Homo sapiens: one gene and its partners. The protein of the gene in region 1 purifies or fractionates together with the protein of each later gene. This does not show direct contact. Each region holds a gene or a part of one and is shown on either strand. Other genes may lie near its edges.

The links. The genes of interacting proteins can lie anywhere in the genome.
Region 2: the proteins of RRP1B (region 1) and SRSF6 purify together in Homo sapiens (affinity purification with mass spectrometry; 3 studies listed by BioGRID and IntAct, with this or other methods). This does not show direct contact.
Region 3: the proteins of RRP1B (region 1) and DDX21 purify together in Homo sapiens (affinity purification with mass spectrometry; 3 studies listed by BioGRID and IntAct, with this or other methods). This does not show direct contact.

What each region holds. Positions count from the first base shown.
Region 1 is NC_000021.9:43,683,150-43,690,900, reverse strand, and holds part of RRP1B (ribosomal RNA processing protein 1 homolog B), read right to left. Parts: intron 7,623-7,751; coding exon 7,528-7,622; intron 6,349-7,527; coding exon 6,251-6,348; intron 5,132-6,250; coding exon 5,112-5,131; intron 4,098-5,111; coding exon 3,966-4,097; intron 3,386-3,965; coding exon 2,661-3,385; intron 614-2,660; coding exon 461-613; intron 1-460. UniProt on the Homo sapiens protein: Positively regulates DNA damage-induced apoptosis by acting as a transcriptional coactivator of proapoptotic target genes of the transcriptional activator E2F1.
Region 2 is NC_000020.11:43,453,860-43,460,895, reverse strand, and holds the start of SRSF6 (serine/arginine-rich splicing factor 6), read right to left. Parts: upstream 3,001-7,036; 5' UTR 2,863-3,000; coding exon 2,756-2,862; intron 2,536-2,755; coding exon 2,387-2,535; intron 1,744-2,386; coding exon of another isoform or gene 1,592-1,743; exon of another isoform or gene 1,359-1,591; intron 1,126-1,358; coding exon 1,001-1,125; intron 864-1,000; coding exon 655-863; intron 382-654; coding exon 298-381; intron 194-297; coding exon 1-193. UniProt on the Homo sapiens protein: Plays a role in constitutive splicing and modulates the selection of alternative splice sites. Plays a role in the alternative splicing of MAPT/Tau exon 10. Binds to alternative exons of TNC pre-mRNA and promotes the expression of alternatively spliced TNC.
Region 3 is NC_000010.11:68,951,206-68,959,169, reverse strand, and holds the start of DDX21 (nucleolar RNA helicase 2), read right to left. Parts: upstream 3,001-7,964; 5' UTR 2,945-3,000; coding exon 2,858-2,944; intron 2,524-2,857; exon of another isoform or gene 2,422-2,523; intron 1-2,421.

The DNA of each region.
Region 1 (7,751 bases):
GCTATCTGCATATCCCAACAGTTCACCACAATCAACTATCTTCTTTCCTACTTACATTCCTGGAAGTGGATCCAGCCTGCATCAGGAAGCACTGCCTCAAGTTCCTGCTCTGACCCACATTTCTGTGTGGACCTCCTACTGCTGACTTGCACCACTTGTGTTTAACACTGTGACATTTCACGAGAGAAAACTGGTTTCTGCAAACCCTGAGCCGGAAGCCCTGGGAGGCAGAATGTGTGGATCAACCGCCCCTCAAAGTCCCCTTCCTGACTGTGATCCCTCAGGGTGGGTCCCAGACCACTCAGACCTTATGCTACCCTGGCCGTGGAACCTGTCCACTGTGGACAGGCTCAGAGGGCCACAGTGGGGCTCCAGGCCCGGCATGGGAAGCACTGTCAGCTCAAGCCCATCTGTGCCCTTGTGGTGAAATGTGCTGTGCCACTCTGGGGAGGGTGCGTACCTGGACGGCAGGGCCTGGAGGGTGGGTGGCAGTGCTGCTCTTGGCTCTTCTGAAGAACAGGGGCTTTGGTAAGAAGGGGGTGTCAAACTTCACAAAGTCGCTCTCTGCCCTCAGCTTCTGCTTCTTCAGGGAACTGCAAGTCCCACTGCTTCCCTACGTGAGCGAGGGGTGAGAAGCGGAGGAGGGGTCAGACGACAGAGCCTCCTGTGCTGCCCACACACACAGGAGGGGAAGGCAGAGCCCCAGGCAGATCCAGCCCACCCGACGGCCCGCGGTCTTCCGCACCGCACTTGCAGACAGCCCTTCCATTCGGCAGAGCTCAGGCTTCACGCACAACACGACCGCTATCATGGCACCATGCCAAGAGGGGCGATGAAAACGCCTCGTCAGAGTAAGGACCCACTTTTATCTTCATCTTCAAAATGGGGATTTTGGCCTTTCAAAGCCGATCTGTTAATAAGATCGACTCTCCCATTTGTAGCTGAATCGTCACTGCGCTGGCAGTCTGGTGTGGAGGACAGTGATGCCCATGTGGGGCTGTGGGTCCCTCACAGGCAGGCCCAGGACACTCATTGCGTGTGCAGCAACTGACAGCCACCCAGAGAGAGACCGGGTCTCGTACTTGGCTCTCAGAGGTGTGGGCAGCCCAGTGCCGCTGCCGACACACGGGTGGCTCCGGCAGGTTCAAGTGTGCCGCCTGGAGGGCAGGGAAGCCCGAGGAGCTTCTCCTGTGCGCCTTCCCTGTGCCATGACAGATGGCAGGGGAAAGCTTCCCTTGACCCTGGGACTTATTGAGCAACACCCCATCCTCTTTACAATAGGCTGCCAGGGGCCTGAGACGACAGCAAGAAAGGCAATGTCTCTGGCCCTCTTAGTGAGGGAGCAGCGCTGAGGGTACGAGGGGCAGGCTGCAGTCCAGGGAGGAGATGGCGGCACTGTGAGGTAGGAGAGACTCGAGGCTAGAAATGGGCCTCCTGCCGTCCAGCTCAGTGCACTGCTGCCCCTGGGTAAGGCTTTCCTGACCATAAACTCACTCACTAGCCACTTGCAGACACTCTTAGCCCCAAACCAGCGCTTCACCAGGTCCACACATGTCCACTTAAACAAGAGATGTCATAATCTCCGCAAAGCGGTGTGTGCAAACCAAGAGGTGACCAAGGTGCGCAAACTCTGTGAAGGGCAGAGTTATTTTCTGCTTTACAGACCGCAGGTCTCTGTCTCTACCACTCCCCTCTGCCGCTGCAGCATGAAAGTGGCCACAGACCTGCACATACAAGTGGATGTGGCTCTGTTGCAGTGACACTACGTTTGCCGGCCCTGGCCTGGAAGCCCAGGGCGCCCAGAGGTGGTGTGAAAAGCGGATCAGGGCCAGGCGCGGGGGCTCTCGCCTGTAATCCCGCACTTTGGGAGGCCGAGGCAGGTGGACTGCTTGAGCCCAGCCTGGGCAACAAGGCAAAACTCTGTCTCTACAAAAATAACAAAAATTAGCTGGGCATGGTGATGTGTATCTGTAATTCCAGCTACTTGGGAGGCAGAGGCAGAAGAATCGCTTGAACCTGGGAGGTGGAGGTTGCAGTGAGCCGAGATTGTGCCACCGCACTCCAGCCTGGGTGACACAGCCAGACCCAAGACCAGATCAACAGCTTGGTTCCTCATTTATATCTGGCTCTAGAAATCAAAGTGGAAGGAAAGTCTTTCCATTAAGAAGATAAGTGGTCCTGCTAGTGAAGTTTCTTGAGCTGGGGGGTAGGGGGGAAGCTAAGAAAAGAAAAGAATATAGAAAAGAAGGTGAGTGAAGCAAGAGAATTTTGGGCTTCCTCTTTTGCCAAAGGGGCCTGGACTGGCCATGCGCTGATGAAGAAAACCAGACCTGCCTTTGACAGAGGCCTAGACTGGCCTGAACACGCCTGGGGCAGGAGTGCCTGGCCCAAGGGATAACTTTCCCAGCTTGGAGTGGGCCCTCCCGAACCCAAGCATGTGGCCTAAGGGAGTGAAGGTGGCCGATGAGGAGGACCGAAGTACTGGTCACCTGTGATTTCCTCCTTAGTGAAGGCTGTTATGAACACACCCTATTCTAACTGCTGCTGAGTCCAGAGGCCTGGCCGCCAGCCCCCACCCTTCCTCTCAGGAGGCAGTGGAGCCCCATGGACGCGAGTGAGTGCCTCTGTGGCGAGCTGGCCTGTGGGTGCTCCCACCTTACCAGAGCCTGGGGTTGCCCAGCTTCGGACTCCAGCACCCCGTTGTGCTCCACCAAGTTTGACATCACTCTCATTTTCTTCCTCTTTTTCAAACTTGCTGTTTTCTGGCTGGGCAGGCCACAGAGCTCCAGGCTGCCGGGCCCTGCCTTCTTTTTCTGCAGCCTCCTGCGCTGGGGCAGCGTGGTGTGGCTGTTCGCCCCCTCTGCGGGGCCTGTGGGAGGGCCTTCCTGCTGCAATGGAGGCCAGGCCGGCGTGGACAGGCCACTGCCATTGACGGGCACAACTCCAAGTTTCCGCTTCCTTTTTAGGAGTTGGGCTCCACCTGTCGGGGACCCTCTAGGTCCCTGAGGATGACTGCCACTCGGGCCACTCTGAGACATGTCCTCTGGGGGCAACACTGCTGATTCCAACATTTCCCTGTGGGCCCTCGGGCTCTTCTTCCGTGGCCGTTTCCTTTTATTGTGCATGGGGACGGCTGGAGGATGCTCGGAGCCACTCTCCTCCCCAGTGCTGGACGTGGCCTCTGCACCTGGCTCGGCCACACGTGCCTTCAGGGCTTTCAGCCCAGAGGCCTCGGGCTCCCTGCCCCGGTTCTGTTCCAGGGATGGGGCTGCACCCCCTGGGCCTGGATTTTCAGGCTGCAGGTGGTGCTTCTTCTTCTTCTTCCTTCTTCTCTTTTGAAGACTGCTTTCACTGTCCTCTTCCTCTACACAAAAGACTCTGCTTCCTAAAAAGACAGAAACCCATCAACAAGCACCCAGTGCCAGCTGGGCCAGAGTCCTGCTGGCGATTCTCAGACAGTATGACTGGCGGACGCAATTTCCTGACATTCTACCACGAGGAAAGTTCCTGTCTCCCTTGAGGTACTTGGTGCGCCCACTACCTTTGTCGTCTGGTCCCACTTCCTCCATCCCCAACTGTGACTGGAAGCCTTCCTTCTGTCCGTTTATAAACACATATGGAACTGAAATAGTCCCATTTCCACTAATTTTAGGGCTCAAGGGTAAAAACCATAGATCTCGAGTGGTCATCAAACAGCCGCCCCCCAGTGCTCCCTGCAGCTCCTGCTTCCCTGCAGAGGTGCCCTGGAGAGCAGGCGGACGTGAGCGGGGTGAGGTGGGGACGCGGCTCCACCAAAAACAGCACAACACTTGGAAAACCGCCTTTACCTCTCAGCCATTAAAGACTGAAGCTTTGGGCTCTGCTAATGCTTTATGACGGCACGAGCTCAAGTCTCCGAGGCCTCCATGGTGCATGCCGCTCCCCAAGGGCTGAGTCGTGCCCTTCTTTTTAGCTTTACAGCTTACCTTTCTCCTTTTCCAAGTTAGTTTTCTCTAAAAGTTTATTTCCTTTCTTCTTATGCTTTCCTTGACTGAGGATTTGGTCATCTTCATCAGCAGAAATGTCCTCCGCAAAACTGAGTTGAGATATACTGCTTCCTAGATGCCAGAGTGACACACTGTTAGCTTCCCCAGGCGCTCAAGACTCTGCCCCAGGGGCCTAAGAGCAGCACCCCTCCCAATTTCTGCCTCATCATCATCGTTCCTCACCGTTTCTCCCACCCAAACCTGAGCGCTGCTGACACAGGAATTACAGACTTAAAAAAGCTTTGTGGATTTCTCAACCAAGGCAAGGCAAGGGATCACAAGCCCTCGGTGACACCCTCCATGGCTGGACCCCGGACGCTTGGCTAATGCAGTCTCTGCATTCCAACCAGCTTGCTGGTGCCTTTCCCAATTCCAAGTGTCCCTAGTGAATGACGGGTATGGGGTAACTTCACTGACTTGTCCAAATGTAACAAAGCTTACAGCATCAGCCTTTCCCGGGGGGACCATTGACCATAAGAGCAAATGAAAGGGATCCTGAGAAATTACATTTTTTACCTTCATAGAGTATCCAATTAAAACCTTCCTAGGCCATTGAAAATCCATCTAGTTAAAATAATAAAAACCAAACCAAAACATCGCAGTACCCACACATGAGAGCAGTCTGCCCTCTTGCTTTGGTGGTTAGGGAGAGCCCAGGATAGGAAGGTGGGCAGGCTGCAGGGAGCCCTAGGCTTGCATCACTTCCCACGCTGTACTGCGGTATGACTAGGTAAGGGCTGGTCTGTCTTTCTTAAAAGTTGGGGTCTTGTTGTGTCACCCAGGCTGGAGTGCAGTGGTGTGATTACAACTTACTGCATCCTGGACCTCCTGGGCTCAAGCGATCCTCCCCTCTTAGACTCCCAAGTGACTGGGACTACAGGATCACGCCACCACGCCTGGCTAATTTTTTCATTTTTAGTAGAGATGTGGCCTTGCTATTTTGCCTGGGCTAGGGACTATTATTTCTTATCAGAGGTTTTCAGTAAAGTTCTTTCAATCTTGTTTCTCAGCGTTTGGCATCAACGCCCCCAGTGGGGTCCATATTCACGAAAAACACCATGAATGATGATTCTTGGCGCGCCTCACCTTCAGAAAGGTCTTGGAATCTAAAAATAAAAAAATAAAAAATAAAAAATAAAAAAATAACAAATGTTCATAAAGAAATCCCTTCTGTCTTCTGTAGACATATGTATTTGATTTTTAAAATACAAGCCATAGTTAAATAGTTGTTAATTCACGTTCTCCTCCAGGAGGGGAGGCTAGACAGGAAATTCTGTGAGGGAAGGGTGGTGCAATACAAAAGCCAAAAAGCTCAAGGCCAGTGCCGCCCTCGGTTACCATCAATACCAGCAAGGACACGGCGGGCCAAAGATGCATCTTGGCACACCCAAATCAAACTAAGAAATTCAATTTTTGTTTCTGAAGGCAGAAATAGCTTAGATCTCTCTCATATTCAATTCTCCAGTGGAGAAAGGCGAAGCCATGTTTTGCTTCACACAATTTTTGTGCATTAGAACAAACAAGACGCATCGAAGCGCAGTGTGGGGAGGTGCATGGGGGAGGAGACACTGGATGGCAGGGACCTCAGGCAAGCTAGGACCATCCTGTGCCCTAAGAACCAGCTGGGAAATGGGCAAAACTACAGGAGCTACTTTCTGGGGGCTTAACATGGAATACTTGAATGTATACAAAGTGCTCAGAGCAGTGCCCGGCTCCTAGAGTGTGATCAGACAGTTGTTGTCACCAATGACAGCAAGCCACACGAGGCCCTCCATGAATTCCAGGTCATCATGTCACTATGGTCAGAGTGACATCAACACTGACAGCTGAATTAACTAACACTTTTGGCATAGCCATATGGGAGGGAGGGGAGAGGTAAAGAATTAACCCTATCTATCTCAGCAGCACACCAGCAGAAGACACCTAAATAGCAGATTCACATCAGTTTCTGGTTGGTTCATTTTAGACATGAATAGACTTCACATCATTCTAAAGCAGCTAAGAGATGAGTATGGCTGCACTGGAAGAATGGAACCTGAGGGGTGGGACTGCTGTTTCCATTAAGCTTTTCAGTTTACATGTGTCTATTACATTGCTATACACAAAAGCATTAAAGGACAAAAAAAGAAGAAAGAAAAAAGATAAGCATGCAGATGGCTTGTCCCACACCAGGAGATGAGAACTAAAGGAATGATGATGTCAGAACCCTCTCCCCAGTTACTGACTTCTTGATGAGTTTGGAGAGGCGCTTCCTGTTGAAGTGGGGCGTGTTCTTCCTGCTGGTCATTTCCAGGAGTCGATCAGCAACAGCCTTATAGTCAAACTAGGCAGGAAGAGAAACTAAACATAAGTCTGCAGCCAAACAACACTGCCTGACTTGGCCATTTACATCTGCTAGTAAGAGAAACCCTTACTGAAGCATTTGGCAACAGATAGGCTAAACAAGCTTGTGCTGGGACTTGGCAACCAGGAGCACAAGCACTACCTTTGAAAAATGCATGTTCAGGCCGGGCGCGGTGGCTCATGCCTGTAATCCCAGCACTTTGGGAGGCTGAGGCGGGTGGATCACAAGGTCAGGACATCGAGACCATCCTGGCTAACACGGCAAAACCCCGTCTCTACTAAAAATACAAAATATTAGCCGGGCGTGATGGCGGGCGCCTGTAGTCCCAGCTACTCGGGAGGCTGAGGCAGGAGAATGGCGTGAACTCAGGAGGCAGAGCTTGCAGTGAGCCGAGATCGAGCCACCGCACTCCAGCCTGGGAGACAGAGTGCGACTCTGTCTCAAAAAAAAAAAAAATTATTCTTGGGAAAAGCTGGGTAAGCAATTCTTAAAAAAAAAAAATTGTGATAGAGTACCCACAACAAAATTTACCTGGGTGTGCTTTTTTTTTTTTTTTTTTGAGCCAGAGTCTGTCACCCAGGCTGGAGTGCAGTGGCATGATCTCAGTTCACTGCAACCTCCACCTCCCGGGTTCAAATGATTTTCCTGCCTCAGCCTCCCGAGTAGCTGGGATTACAGGCGTGCGCCACGGTGTCGGGCTAATTTTTGTATTTTTAGTAGAGACGGGTTTCACTGTGTTGGCCAGGCTGGTCTCGAACTCTTGACCTCAGGTGATCTGCCCGCCTGGGCCTCCCAAAGTGCTGGGATTACAGGCGTGAGCTTGTAATTAAATTTTAAATTTAATCTAGATTTGCAATCTGTACTTGGCAAACTTTTTTTTATTTGAAAAGTGCCACTAGAGCTGGCTCTGTGGTAGAGAACAGAGGAGAGCTTAGCCATTCAAAATAAGTGCTACTATCTCTTTCAAAACTCCATCATATTTACATTTCCTTGTCTCCAATAAGGTTATTCTTCAGAAGGTGACATTTAGTGACTGAAGGGATTAAAAAGGAGTTTACGCTTCAGGCCTTATAGCTTAACTAGCTGTGACCCTAATTCTCTAGTCAGGCTACTCCACAGCAAATCTATATTCTATAAAAAGCAACAACTGCTACCCACCTGGAGAAGGGGCCCTGTGTCCTCAAAGGTTCCACAGTCATCTCTTCCTCTTTCATCACTGAGTCCATCTTTTCTGGAATGGTTTTTGCCCAGTGCTGTCAAAATATACCCAAAGACCAAATTATTGACATATCAAATACACAGAAGTGACTACTTCCACAGGAGCCACTGTCTAATTAGGTGTCTCTTAGCAAAAAAGAAGGTTGGGCACGGTGGCTCACGCC
Region 2 (7,036 bases), on another chromosome or scaffold:
TATATCACCCTTTCCATTTTCTTTAGGGGATCGGGACCGAGACCTGCTTCGAGATTTCTCATACTCATCCTTAGATCTGCTTCGAGAATGTGAATGGGAGCCCCGATCAGACTTGGGCTTAGATTTGCTCTTTGATCTAGATTTCCTGCCTTTTGATCGAGAACGTGATCGACCTTTGCTCCGCGACCTGGAACTGGACAAGGAAAGACCGATTTTCTCAATACTTAGTGAGAATGTACACATACTCCATAAACAAGTACGGTAATATTCACAGTGACTCAACACAACGTTATTTACCGGGAGCGACTTTTTGAGATACTTCGAGATCTACTGCGGCTGCTCCTGCGACTCCTACTTCGTGACCGTCTTCTAGATCGAGACCTATTAGGAGAAAAACAATGAAGTCTTAATCCCAATCCAACTTAAATACATCCGTGCCATCTGGCAAAAATAGATAAGCCAAAGAATAATGTTTTTCTTTACTACGAAATTAAATACACTGTTCAAAACATCCAGAAAAGAACGCAATGATGCACAGCCAAAACAAACTAAAAGCTGGCTTTAATTCAAGTAGGCAACAATTGACATCACTCAATTACTCCCTTTTTATTGGCAAATATTGTTTCCTTCCCACAGTGTCCTTCAACAAGTTACCTGGATCTGCTTCCAGAGTAAGATCGCCTATGGCTTGTGCGTGGCTTATCTTCAATAAGCCTAATATTTCTGCCATTTATTTCTGTGCCATCCAGTTTGTCCAAAGCACGCTTCATGTCAGAGTAGGAGCGAAACTCAATTACACCCTCATTTGTTCGTTCCTTGTGGGCATCCGCATAGGTTACTTCACCTGCTTGTCGCATAAAATCCTGAAAGACAAGATTGGTCAGACTCGGAAATCTTAAAACATCTATATACCATAATAAATTCCCAGAAATAAGAATATAAAAGGAGTTTACTTTAAAGCATTAGTCATATCATTTCTATCTTGAATTACAAAACATACCTTTAAATCTTGCCAACTGCACCGACTAGAAAGATTTTCTACAATAAGCCTGTATTCTGTACGAACAGGTGGTCCGTATTTGTCTCTGCCAGATGTTCTCCGACTGCTGTATCCACCTCCACCACCTTTATCACATGAAGGGAACAATTAGATGCCTTGTAATGATAAAAACGCATAATGTCTTTGAAAGTTAGTACAAACATATCAACTTTTATTTACTGGAGTAGGACTTTGCTATTATATTGCTAAACCTTCGACACATTTGTGATTTGCCATAAAATTAAATTAAGGGCAAGTCAAATAGACTAAATCCAACTAAACCTCTCCTACAATCTGTTAGAGAGTGACTGCTCCTTTATTCGATTTACCTCGCTAAGTTTTATTTTACAGAACATTGTAAAATATAAAACTTAACTGATTACATGCATTTCTACATTTTACAAAAATGTTTACTAGTTTTACACTAAGTACTTACATCACAGTGTGAGGTTTTTGGTGGTGGTTTGGCCACAAAACACGCAAGGTAACAGTCACCTAGTTCAGATTAACCAGTTTTGTCTAACCCTTGGAATCCTCACCATCACCCTGCGTCTAATGGCAAAAGGCTGCTGTCGTCATGGCTTCCGGTAAGGTCAGCCAAAGGGTCATAGGGCAAGGGTCACACAATGTATGGAAAAGCCAAGGCCAATCAGGAAAGGCAGTCATCTTAGCCTCAGTGGACACAGCCTCAGCCCCATTGGTCACTTTCAAATTGAAACATCAAGGACTTGTTAAAAAGTTTGAATTCAACATGCAACAATTTAAACATCAAACATTTAACATAACCAAAAATCCCCCCAACCTCCTCCCAATAACATGCCCCAATTAGTTCAAATACAGCATAAAGCTTATTTAGATCTACTTTGTGGTACAATACCACATTACTTAAAAATAGTACATTCTTTGGCCCCCATCAAGTTCCATAGCTTTAAGACCTATACTTTATGCTCCTCCCCTTCCCCGTCCCCCGCGCCCCCTACCCCACCTCCACCCGAGCCTGCCCCCGAACCTCTAACTAATGCACTGATAGGTAAGTAAGGAGAATACAACAAATACAGCCACCCCTTACTTCCTCTGTGGGAAGAACCCGTGACAGTGCTGACAAGGGGCCAGAAGAAGCCACCCACCTCCCAACTTGGCAAATAAACAAAACCAAACACCCAAACCCAATCCCCGCGCTCCGGCGTCCCATGGCTGCCCCGGGCAGACGTGAAGGCAGCGGGGCTCGGGGACACCCAAGTCAAACGACCCCCGGCCCTCGCGCCTGCCCGGGCTGGGAGGCCCCACCCCACCCACCCCCGCCCCCAGGGTCCCCAAGGGCGCGGAGCGCGCGGGGGTGGGACTCACTGCGGCTTCCGTAGCTGTAGCCGTCGCGATCGCGACGCGGGCCCCGGGCGTGCTCTACGATCACGCGCTCGCCGCAGAGCTCCTTGCCGTTCAGCTCGTAAACGGCGTCGTCGGCGTCGCGGGAGTCCTCGAACTCCACGAAGCCGTACCTAGGGGCGGTGCGAGGGCCGGACAACCGCGGGGGAGTCGTTAGCCAGGACGCGCACGTGCGCGCGCCCGTACCCCACCGCGCGCCCCCGCGACGCCGCGCCGTCGCCATCTTTGAGGCCCTGCCACGCGGCGCCGCGGCCTTGGCCGCTTCTTTCCTTGGAGAGTTCCCGCCGCCACCAGGCCTGGGACGCTGGGCGCGGGCGCCCAGGCCCGACTCACCCATTTTTGAGGTCTACTTCGAGGAGGCGGCCATAGCCACTGAAAAAGCGCTGGATGTCCTTCTCCCGGACGTTGTAGCTCAGGCGTCCTATGTAGACGCGCGGCATGTCCGTGGCGGGCGGGGACCCAAGGGCTGGTTGTCGAACGGCGGACCGCAAGCCAGTAACCGCGGTGCGGGTGCGGGGACGGCAAGAGCCCGAACACGCGCCTCACACCACAGGGGCGGCCGAGTCCAGCCACACAATGGCGCGCGCGCGCGCCAGGCTTTCGCTATATGGGCGGCCGGTGGGGCGGGGCCTGGAGCGTGATGTCAGCGCGCAGCGGCACGTCCGTCCCGCGTCGTCCCTGGGCTAGATGGTGACTGGCGAGTCCGTTGCCCGCGACGTTTCGGTGTAGTGCGGTCTTGCTAGCTTCTAGGATTTTTCTCTAGCCCTCCCCACCGTCTTTGAAAACACAATGTCTCTAATCCAGCCGCAGAACTGCTTTCTAATTTGTACCTTTTATAAAACTGTGCGCGATCTCTTCGGGGTTGAAGCTCGGGAGGCGGGCTGAGCGAATCCCCGTTTTTCATTGGTTCTCGAGGTTATCATAATAGGTCGCCGCGGTCTCTGCTTGGTGGCTTAAAACGAGGCTGCGGATTTCTCCCAGCGATTGGTTGATGCTCGTTTTGATGGGGACCGCGGTCTCGGACCCAGTCGCTTGTCTTGTTTCGCAGAATCTGAGGATCGCGCGCCGAGGTCTTGCTGACCGGGCGGAGGTCGCGTTGCGAGCGCGCAGACCCGCCGACATCAGCCTCTCCGGGTCTCACTCGCAGCCTTCGCCTCCCCGGACGTTCCCCTCTCCCTCCATGGGTCTTTCTTGGAGCCCTGGCAGCTTGACTCACTTGTGGATTGGGCTATCCGTGGCAATCCTACGCTCACTGTAGGTGCTCAAAAGGGAGCGTGGACGAGACCCGGCAGCCCTCCCACAGCGACGAACGATTTTTTTTCTCCCGTGTATGGAAAGTCCTTTGTCCCAATACTATCATTTCCTCCACTGACTTGAAAGTGCCTTATTTTGTGAGTTTATCAATGGAGATGCTATTTAAAGCTGTAGAACCAGATTGAAAACCTCAAAGGAGTAAGTTTAAGTGGAGAGCGGAAGACCCAGGCCAACGCCTGGGGTACTCTGAAATTTAAGCGCAGGAAAGGAGACTGGGAGGAGTGACTAGCGAGGTAGGGAGAAGACCAGGAGAGTAGGTGTCACCGCCGAAGCTAAAAAAAAAAAAAAAAAAAAAAAGGGATATCACTGAGATAACACCAGCTCTTTAGATATTTATGTATTCCTGCTCTGTTTTGAGTGGTGCAACCTCAATATCCTTAAGCTTCGGGTTGAAAAAGGGGGGTTTTGTCCTCCTGGAGCTATTTGGAAGTCTAGAGGGAAACGTTGTTTGTCACGACTGGGGGAGGTAGAGGCCGTGCTTAAAGTTAGATAAATAAAAAATACGAGTCTGTAATCCCCACACCTTGGGAAGCTGAGGCAAGAGGATCTCTTGAGCCCAGGTGTTCGAGGCTGCAGTGAGCTATGATCATGCCACTGCACTCCAGCCTGGGTGACAAAGCAAGACTCCAACCTGCCTGAAGGAAAGAACAAAGCTTCCGCAGCGTGGAAGGGGACCCGAGCGGGTTGCCACTGCTGGCTGGACCGCCAGTTTTTAGTCCCTTATTTGGCCCTGCCTACATCCTGCTGATTGGTCCATTTTACAGAATGTTGATTGGTCCGTTTTTACAGAGTGCTGATTGGTGTGTTTACAAACCTTTAGCTAGACAGAGAGCACTGATTGGTGTGTTTTCAATCCTTTAGCTAGACGGGAAAGTTCTCCAAGTCCCCACCCAACCCAGAAGCCCAGCCGGCTTCACCTCTTCACCTCGGTAGGCAGAATAAGGGTTCCCCCTAAAGATGTCTATGTCCTAATCCTAATCCTAATCCCTGAAACCTGTGAAGATGTTACCTTGTATGTCAAAAGGGACTTTGCAGATCTGATTAAGTTGAGCATCTTGAGATGCAGAGATGCCCCGGGATTGTCCAGGTGGGCCCCATGTGATCATAAGGGTGATTACAAGAGGGGGACAGGAGAGCCACAGTCAGAGAAGCAGATGTGACAAAGGAGGCTGGGATTGGGGTCAGAGTGATTGGCTGTAAGAAAGTCACAACCGAAGTTAATGGCTTTGAAGATGGAGGAAGGAACCATAAGCCAAAGGGTGCCAGTAGCCTCTGGAAGCTGGAAGACACGAGGGAACAGATTCGCCCCAGAGCCTCCTGAAAGAACGCAGCCCAGGCCAGGCTCTGTGGCTCACACCTGTGCCATCTCGGCTCACTGCAACCTCCGCCTCCTGGGTTCAAGTGATTCTCCTGCCTCAGCCTCCCGAGTAGCTGGGATTACAGGCATGCACCACCACGCCCAGCTAATTTTGTATTTTTAGTAGAGACGGGGTTTCACCATGTTAGGCTGGTCTCGTTTCGAACTCCCAACCTGAGGTGATCCACCCGTCTCTGCCTCCCAAAGTGCTGGGATTATAGGCGTGAGCCATTGTGCCAAGCCCAACACCAGCTCTTTGGATATTTTTGTATTCCTGCTCTGTTTTGAGTGGTGCAACCTCAATATCCTTCCGCTTCGGGTTGAAAAGGGGGGGCGGGGTTTGCCCTCCTGGAGCTATTTGGCAGTCTGGAGGGAAACGTTGTTTGTCACGACTGGGGGAGATAGAGACCGTGCTTAAAGTCAGATAAAAAATATGATTCTGTAATCCCTGCACCTTGGGAAGCTGAGGCAGGAAGATCTCTTGAGCCCAGGAGTTCGAGGCTGCAGTAAGCTATGATCATGCCACTGCACTGCAGCCTGGATGACAAAGCAAGACACTGACTCAATGAAATAAAGAAAAGCAAGGAGCAAGGCGTAGTAGCTCACGCCTGTAATCCCAGCACTTTGGGAGGCCCAGGTGAGAGGATTGCTTGAGCCCAGGAGTTCGATATCAACCTGGGCAACATGGCAAGATCCCATCTCTACAAAAAACTTTTTTTTTAAAAAATTAGCTGGGCATGGTGGCACATGCCTATAGTCACAGCTATTGGGAAGGCTCTCAACAGGGGGCAGTGGTTCTCAACAGGGGGTAGTTCTGTCCCCCCTGCGGACATCTGTCAATATCTGAAGACTTTCTGGTTGTCACAGCTGGAGGAGGGAAGGAGCTGCTCGTATCTCATGGGTAGAGGCCAGGGATGCCACGAAACATCCTGCAAGGCACAGGACAGCCCCACCACGAAGGATTATCTGGTCCCCAATGTCAATAGCTGAGGTTGAGAAGTGCTATTCCAAATGAATCCTGTACAGAAGTTTTTTTCTTTTCTTTTTTAAATAGAGGCAGGGTCTCCCTATGTTACCCAGGCTGATCTTGATCTCCTGGGCTCAAGGAGTTCAAGCCTCATCCTCCCAAAGTGCTGGGATTACAGGCATGAGCCACCATGCCCAGCCTATGGAAGTTTTTAAAACGAAGTTTGGACTAGCTTGGCAACATGCAATCCAATCTCCCAGTTGGAAGAGCCTCAGAGGATCTTTCAGTCATCTGATTCATGATTCTTTCTAACTCTGTCACTGACAGTTTCCAATTCTGGATTCTGTTCCTGGAGCAACTACTGCTATATTCACTCCACTCCATACAAATACACCTGAGTTGCTACGAGAGGGGATTTGCCGGGCACCGTGGCTCACACCTGTAATCCCATCACCTTGAGAGGCAGAGATGGGATCACTTGATCCCAGGAGCACAAGACCAGCCTGAACAACATAGCAAGACTCCATCTCTTAAAAAAAAAAAAGGCCAGTACTGGCGGCGTATACTTGTAGTCCCAGCTACTCCAGGGACTGAGGTGGGAGGATCACTTGAGCCCTGGAGGTCAAGGCTGCAGTGAGGTATGATGGCTCCACTTCACTCCAGCCTGGGTGACAGAGCAAGACTCTTGTCTAAAAAAGAAAGGAGAGAAAGGAAAGAAAGAAATAAGAAAAGATATGAGCTCCCATGCTGCACATCTACCATTTCTCCTTTGAGTTGTTCTCCCAACACATCAGCAGAGTTGGGTCCTCAGGAAGACTCCACAGAATGGTGACAATCCAGCACCTCTCTCAATTATGATATTTGAAACTGTTTTCTCTTCCGCAGCAGTGCTCTTGGGTTTTTTGTTAGGGGTAGCCACTGGGCTTTGGGAAAGAGAAGTGAGAGGAAGAGTGGATGATATCAGCTGCATCTTTCT
Region 3 (7,964 bases), on another chromosome or scaffold:
TCCAACAGGCTCCAAACTCAATACTATAAAAAGTCCAAATTCAATTCCAATAGAATAAGGCAAATGTATCTACAGATTGATGATGTTAAGCAGGTTTCTTTTCTTTCTTCCTGCTAAAATCCCAGGTAAAACAACAGGGATTTTTTTTGTTTTTTTAAGAGACAATTTCACTTTTTCACCCAGGTTGTGGTACAGAGGCATGATCATAGCTCACTGCAGCCTCTAACTCCAAAACAGGAATTCTGCACTTTGCCTATCTTACAAGAGCAAATGAATTTATACAAAGACAGTTTAGGGCCAGGTGCAGTGGTTCATGCCTGTAATCTCAGCACTCTGGGAGGCCAAGGCAGGAGGATTGTTTGAGGCCAGCAGTTCCAGGCAAGCATGGACAATATAGCGAGACCCCGTCTCTATTGAAAAAGTTTAAAATTTAGGCTGGGCGCGGTGGCTCATGCCTATAATCTCAGGACTTTGGGAGGCCAAGGAGGGCGAATCACGAGGTCAGGAGAAGGAGACCATCCTGGCTAACACAGTGAAATCTCATCTCTACTAAAAGTACAAAAAAATTAGCCAGGCATGGTGGCACGCACCTGTAGTCCCAGCTACTCGGGAGGCTGAGGCAGGAGAACTGCTTGAACCCGGGAGGCGGGGGTTGCAGTGAGCTGAGATCATGCCACTGCACTCCAGCCTGGGCGACACAGCAAGACTGTCTCAAAAAAAAAAATTTTTTTTTTAATTAGCCAGGTGTAGCAGCACACCTATACTCCTAGCTACTTAGGAGGCTGAGGTGGGAGGATTGCTTGAGCCCAGGAATTCAAGACTGCAGTCAGCTATAATCATGCCACTGCACTCTAGCTTGGGTGACAGTAAGACTCTGTCTCTACAAAAAATAAAAGGGCAGGATGCAGTGGCTCACACCTGTAATCCCAGCACTTTGGGAGGCCGAGGTGGGCGGATCACCTGAGGCTGGGAGTTTGAAACCAACCTGACCAACATGGAGAACAAGCCTGGGCAACGACAGCAAAACTCCATCTCAAAAAATAATAATAATAAAATAAAGAGACACTTTATGAAACAAAAAGTTATAAAAACTCACAGTCTATCACTCATGTGTAAAAAAGATGTACTTAATTTAAAATAAAATAAATAAGTTACAAGAATATGGAAGGAGTGACACCTTAGAACCAAGTAAGACAGATGACTGTGGCTCCTATTTGAACTTTCTGACCCTCTACAACTTTTCATACTACTGAAAACAATTAGACATGTGTTGTAGCCTCCTTAGAAGCCTGTTCTGGCAGAGCCCCAGAACAATGTTGGAAGTACATATTACGCTGAATTCTGCCTCCCGGAAATTTCAGGCCTGGTCTCTGTTCTCAAATCATAGATTAAGAATAATCTCCTAGCCAACAAAAAACAAGCTAGTCTCCTTCCAAAATTTTATTCGTTTTCATCCCTTGGTTCCACCAAATAAGACTGAGTTTCCCATCCTGGTGGTCTCTTTTGGAATATAACAGAGTTTGGTCATGTACCTCTGGATTTGAGCATGCCAAATTGAACGCAATTGACTGATGCAATGTAAACCAGGACCACGACCTTCTTGCACCTGAGTACAAATCTGCCGCGGCTTCCTACAATTCTAAAATATTGCTATTGTAAGAACTCCATATCAAAAGACAGAGAAACCAACAAGGAAAGTTAATTCTAAGTAGCGTACAACCTAAGTTCAAGGACAATCTTTGTTCCCACTGACTTGATCTCAGAACAGAGACTCAGTCACAAGTTAAATCACTAGGAAGCAACAGCAAAGCACCGGTCAGCTATCAAGGTTAAAACTACTGCACACTGCTGGCCTATATAAAAAATATGGTGTACACTCAGCACCGCAACACATGCCTTTACATTTCCATGGGAAATCCAGTCAACTCATGTGGGTCAAACAGTTGTAAAACAGATTTTCGTAATAACTGAATTACGTCATCTTCTCAGGGCGGCTTACCGGAAAACAAACTCTACTTCCCTTACGAGAGTTTAAAAAGTCACTAAAGACGCGGCCCACGTGCGCAGATGAAGTTAAGACCTCTCCAGTCTACTCTAAAGCTCCAGTGCCCACATTTTTTTTTTTTTTGAGATGGAGTTTCGCTCTGTTGCCCAGGCTGACGTGCAGTGGCGCGATCTCGGCTCACCACAACCTCCGCCTCCCGGGTTCAAGCAATTCTCCTGCCTCAGCCTCCCGAGTAGCTGGGACTACAGGCGCGCGCCACCATGCCCGGCTAATTTTTGTATTTTTTAGTCGAGACGGGATTTCACTATGTTGGCCAGGCTGGTCTCGAACTCCTGACCTCATGATCCGCCCGCCTCGGCCTCCCAAAGTGTTGGGATTACAGGCGTGAGCCACCGCACCCGGCCTCCAGTACCCACTTTGACTTGACGTGTAACTTCCTTCGCGCACGCTCATGCCGGGAGTTCTGTCTTAGCCAACAACGTGGAGCCTGACTGAAGGTCCAACTCTGCGCACTGTGTGAGGCGCGCCCAAGTCGCCGGGGACCACGTGGGACACCCGGCCCTCTCCCGAGCTCCAACAGGGCCTCTCTACCAGAGTTCCGACCTGTGGATGCCTATAAGCTCAGAGGAAGAGGTCAGCGCACGGCGGACCTGGCTCGGTCGGGCAAACGACGCGTCCACTGCCCGGGGAGCGCACCACTCCTGGGCGACCGCCCGCCAAGACCCACGCCCGGTGTCTGGACGCGCTGTTATCCGCCGCGCGCTCCCACGATCCCAGCCCGGGCACTTCTCCCGCACCCCGGGGTTCCGCTCCATTCAGCGTCCCTCCTGGCCCCAGGTCCCTCCGTTTCACCTCCTCGGTTTGCTTTCGCAGTGTCTCCCCTTTTTTCATTGCGGTGTCTGATTCCAAACCAGCGTCACTACGGAGTTTTCCCGGCATCTTCAGCGCAGGTTGCCCAGGCCGACCGGTCTTCTCAACCGCGTGGAGAGGAAGAGGTAGTTCCCCACCCTGGGTCCACCCGGCTCTCGTCACTTCCCGTAGCAAGGCACTTCCGGGGGAAGCAGGAAGCACAGGAAAAGCTGCTTTCCGCGTGGTAAATTCAAAGCAGCGGCCTGTGACTGTGGTTGGATTTAGTGAATTGACCACTTGCGGCCCTTGGTCTAGAAGGCACCTACGGAACGGTAGAACCGCAAGGAATTGCAAAGGTTAGCTTTGTATTCTTCAACACTGGCCAGATTTTCCCTAGCCCCAGCCTGATAAATGAAGGCTTCTAGTTGCTTTTGAGTGGCGCCATCTTCAGTGCTTTATGTTGTATTGCTCGAGTTTGCACGTACAGACGCGCGGATGTGTGTCCTTAATCATCTCTTGGAAACGTCTACTCTGAAAGTGTCGACCAGACTCAGGAGCCTGAAGAAAAAAAATAATTCAGTCGGGTCTGGTCGTTCATTCATGCGAGCACTCAAACATCTTATGAGCGTTCACTGTGTCAGGTAGGAGAAACAGGACTAGTATTCACTAACAAGCACAAAAGCCTTATCGTCAAGAAGCTTTATAGACTAGCGGGAGAGAGAGGTCTTGTGGGTTTGAGACAGAGTCTCGCTCTGTCATCCAGACTGGAGAGTGCCATGGCGTGACCTGGGCTCACTGCAACCTCTGCCTCCCGAGCTCAAGCGAATCTCCTGCCTCAGCCTCCAAAGAAGCCAGGACTTAAAGACTAGCCCTGGCGACACAGCAAAACCCCTATGTCTATATATCTATATATACACACACATATATAATATATAAATAAAATATTTCATATATATAAAAGAAAAAATAAATTTCAAAAATGGGATAGAATAATATCTGACATTGAAAATCGGCCTTTTTGTTTTTTTGAGACGGAGTCTCGCTCTGTTGCCCAAGCTGGATGAAGTGGCGCTATCTCAGCTCATTGCAACCTCTGCCTCCAGCGATTCTCATCCTTCAGCCTCCCGAGTAGCTGGGATTACAGGCCTGCACCACGACACCCAGCTAATTTTTGTATTTTTAGTAGAGATGGGGCTTCACCATCTTCACCAGGCTGGTCTCGAACTCCTGACTTCAGGTTATCCACCCATCCGCCTCAGCGTTCCAAAGTGCTGGGACTATAGGCATGAGCCACAGCGCCCAGTCTTTATCTATTTCATTTTTTTGAGACAGGTTCTCCCTCTGTTGCCCAGGCTGGAGTGGAGTGTAATGGCGTGATCATGGCTCATTGCAGCCTCGACCTCCCAGAGTCAAACGATCCTCCCACCTCAGTCTCCCGAGTAGCTGGGACTACAGGCATGTGCCACCCTGCCTGGCTAATTTTTTAATTTTTTTTTTTTTTGTAGAGACGGAGTTTTGCCATGTTGCCCAGGCTGGTTTTGAACTCCTGAGCTCAAGTGATCTTCCCACCTCCGCCTCCCAAAGTACTGGGATTACAGGCAGGAGCCACCATACCCAGTCTGCTCTGTTATTTTTGGAAACATTACCTTATCTGAACCCAAGTTTCCCTTGTATGAAATGAGGATAACAAAACCTACTTCATCAATTGAGAAAATTAAATAAGATAATGGCAGAAAATGGTCTGGCAGTGCCTGACACACAGAGCACAATCAATGAAAACTATTAAAACTTAGTGTGTCACAAGGATTTGAAAACACAATTTAAAATATTACATTTTATGATAAAGGAAAATGCTGGAAAAGTATTTCTGTATTTCTGATTACTGCACTTTTTTTTTTTTTGGAGACAGTCTCACTCTGTGGCCCAGGCTGGAGTGCAGTGGCGTGATCTCAGCTCACTGCAAGCTCTGCCTCCCGGGTTCACGCCATTCTCCTGCCTCAGCCTCCCAAGTAGCTGGGACTACAGGCGCCCACCACCACACCCGGCTAATTTTTTGTATTTTTAGTAGAGACGGGGTTTCACCGTGTTAGCCAGGATGGTCTCGATCTCCTGACCTCACGATCCTCCCGCCTCGGCCTCCCAAAGTGCTGGGATTATAGGCTCGAGCCACTGTGCCTGGTCTACTGCACATTTTTTAATCTGAGAGTTTCAAGGAAAAATTTTGTTTCACCTAAACTATTATTTGATGTTTCGTGGTCTCAATTTTTTTTTTTTTTTTTTTGAGACAGAGTCTCACTCTGTTGCCCAGGCTGGAGTGCAGTGGCGCGATCTCAGCTCACTGCAACCTCCGCCTCCCAGGTTCAAGCAATTCTCCTGCCTCAGCCTCCTCAGTAGCTGGGATTACAGGCGCCTGCCCCCACACCCGGCTAATTTTTCTATTTTTAGTAGAGACAAGGTTTCACCATCTTAGCCAGGCTGGTCTCGAACTCCTGACCTCAGGTGGTCCACCTGCCTTGGCCTCCCAAAGGGCTGGGATTACAGGTGTGAGCCACCACGCCCAGCCATGGTCTCAAATTTTTTTAACAATTTGTGAAAATGTGCAACAGTGCTTTAACTTATATTCTGATATCCCTGAGCCAGGAGCCTTGATTTATTCATCTTTGTGTCCTCAAAATTTCAGACAGTGCCTGGTACATAGTAATCTGTAATTAAGTGTTTAATGAATGTTAACATGGCAGTGGTGGAGGGGAACCCCTTGAAATAAATTTTAGCTATATGCCCAGGTACGAAAGTACCTGAGTCATCCTGGTGTTAGATGTGGAAGAAAGGAGAGCAAGCATGAATGCAGTCAACTAATTGGCCAACAAAATGCTTAACATCTCTGGTTTCACCATTGTATCATGTAGTTTAGATACTAAGTGGAGGCCCAGTCCCCACCTCAAAGAACCTGCAGTCTGGTTGACAAACCACAACACTACATGATCCTGCTATATACATGATACTACTGCATACAGTACAGGGACATGTTTATTATCAAGAGATATTCAACAAGAGAGTAAGCCCCAGAATGGTACTAAATGGAAAACTTTTCAAAGCTTCTAAAATAAGTTCCTTTGTAACCTGCATATAGGGACAAACCCAAATTTCCACCAGGAAACATGCAAAAGGCCCATTTGACAAAAGGTAGCCAATTAATTATCTTGTCATCAGTATAAAATTCAATAACAAGACGAAGAATAGCTTACATAAATTTGATAGGAGCTGGATATGGTGGTGCACACCTGTAGTCCCAGCTACTTGGGAGGCTGAAGCACAAGAATTGCTTGAACCTGGGAGGCGGAGGTTGCAGTGAGCCAAGATTGCACCACTGCACTCCAGCCTGGGTGACAGAGCAAGACCCTATCTCCAAAAAAAAAAAAAAAAAAAGAGGAAAAATTTGATAGGAAATGTTGAATATCCTTGAATGCTTAAATATCAATATTTTGCCAGGCCTATTTCCTCTGATCTGGATGATGTAATGTTTTCACAAAATTAGAGGGAGAATTTGTATTTTTAAAAGCATGTATACACACACACACAACGAATTCAAAAGTCTACAAAATAAAATGTTAGCAGTCATTCTTTCTGAGTAATGTGACTGTGGGTGGTTTTTATAGTCTTCCATTTGCTTCTCTACTTTTTTAGATTCCCAACAATGGACATGTATCTTTTTTTTTTTTGAGGCGAAGTCTCACTCTGTCGTCCAGGCTGGAGTACAGTGGCGCGATCTTGGCTCACTGTAACCTCCACCTGCTGAGTTCAAGCAATTCTCCTGCCTCAGCCTCCCAAGTTGCTGAGATTACAGGCGCCTGCCACCATGCCCAGCTAATTTTTGTCTTTTTAGTAGAGATGGGGTTTCACCATGTTGCCCAGGCTGGTCTCAAACTCCCGACCTTCAGTGATCCACCTGTCTCAGCCTCCCAAGTGTTGGGATTACAGGCGTGAGTCACTGCGCCCTGCCTGACATGTATACTTATAAGGAAAAAAAAAAGGAATATGGTTTTTAAAAACTACTGTTAAGCACTATCCCCAAAATACAGGAAACAAAAACAATGTGAGAGAAGACTCTCAAGATATTTAAACCTAAAAGTGAATTCATAATTCTAAAGCTGGAGAGAATAAAGCAGATGTTATTTCATTTATAAATTCAAAAACTGAAGATCAGAGTAACTGATTCTAGTTCAAATAGCTGTTAAATGACTAGAGCACAGAGTACCAAACAGGAGGCCAAAAGCCAAAAAAAGGGAGCCATGAAGGTACTGGCTTCTAAAAGGAAGAAGAGTAAAGATACCAGTGGCCGAGTGCAGCCCAAAGCTGAGAATTTGATGAGAAATTTGCCTGGCCCCATCCTACTTTCAAAACATGTGGAAAGCTATTATTTAATTTTGTTAGGACCCTTGCTAATAGGGCATCTGACCTTTAGCAGGTAGACTCTCTTAAACCCATCCACCCTGTTGGCATTTACCTATATACTTATCTTTTTCACTCTTCCCTGAAACCCTCCAACAGCTATCCAAAACAAGACCTACAAAGCCCTCCAAGATATAACACATCTTGCCTTGTTCTCACCATTGCCTTCCTCACAGTCACGATCCCAGCAACAAGAGCTACTCATAGTTCCCCATACTTAAGACCATGTTGTTTCATCAGCTTTTCTGTGCCTTTGCTTGGATGCAAGGTTTCCTGTTTCTTTTACCTACTTAACGCTCAGCCATCACGTCTAAAAAGCCTTCCCTGAACCCCCACTCCCATTCCAGGGCCAGGTGCCCTTGCTCAGTGTTCACAAATCATTGTAGTTAGTCATTCCCATGGACATAGGTTTATTTGTCCACTTATTTCACTAGATTCTGAGCTCCAGAGTAGAGACTAGGCACTGCTTATTAACCCAAAACATATTGCCTGGGACACTGTAGTCACACAACATATTCTGACTGAACATAGTAGTACTCATGCAACTTAATATGAATGGAGCCCCTGTTTCATCTTGGTTATACTACAACTCAGTTGCTCAAATGCAAAGCAGACTGAGATTTTCCCCCCAGTTGTGTCTGTCTGTAACACTAGCCCCCCA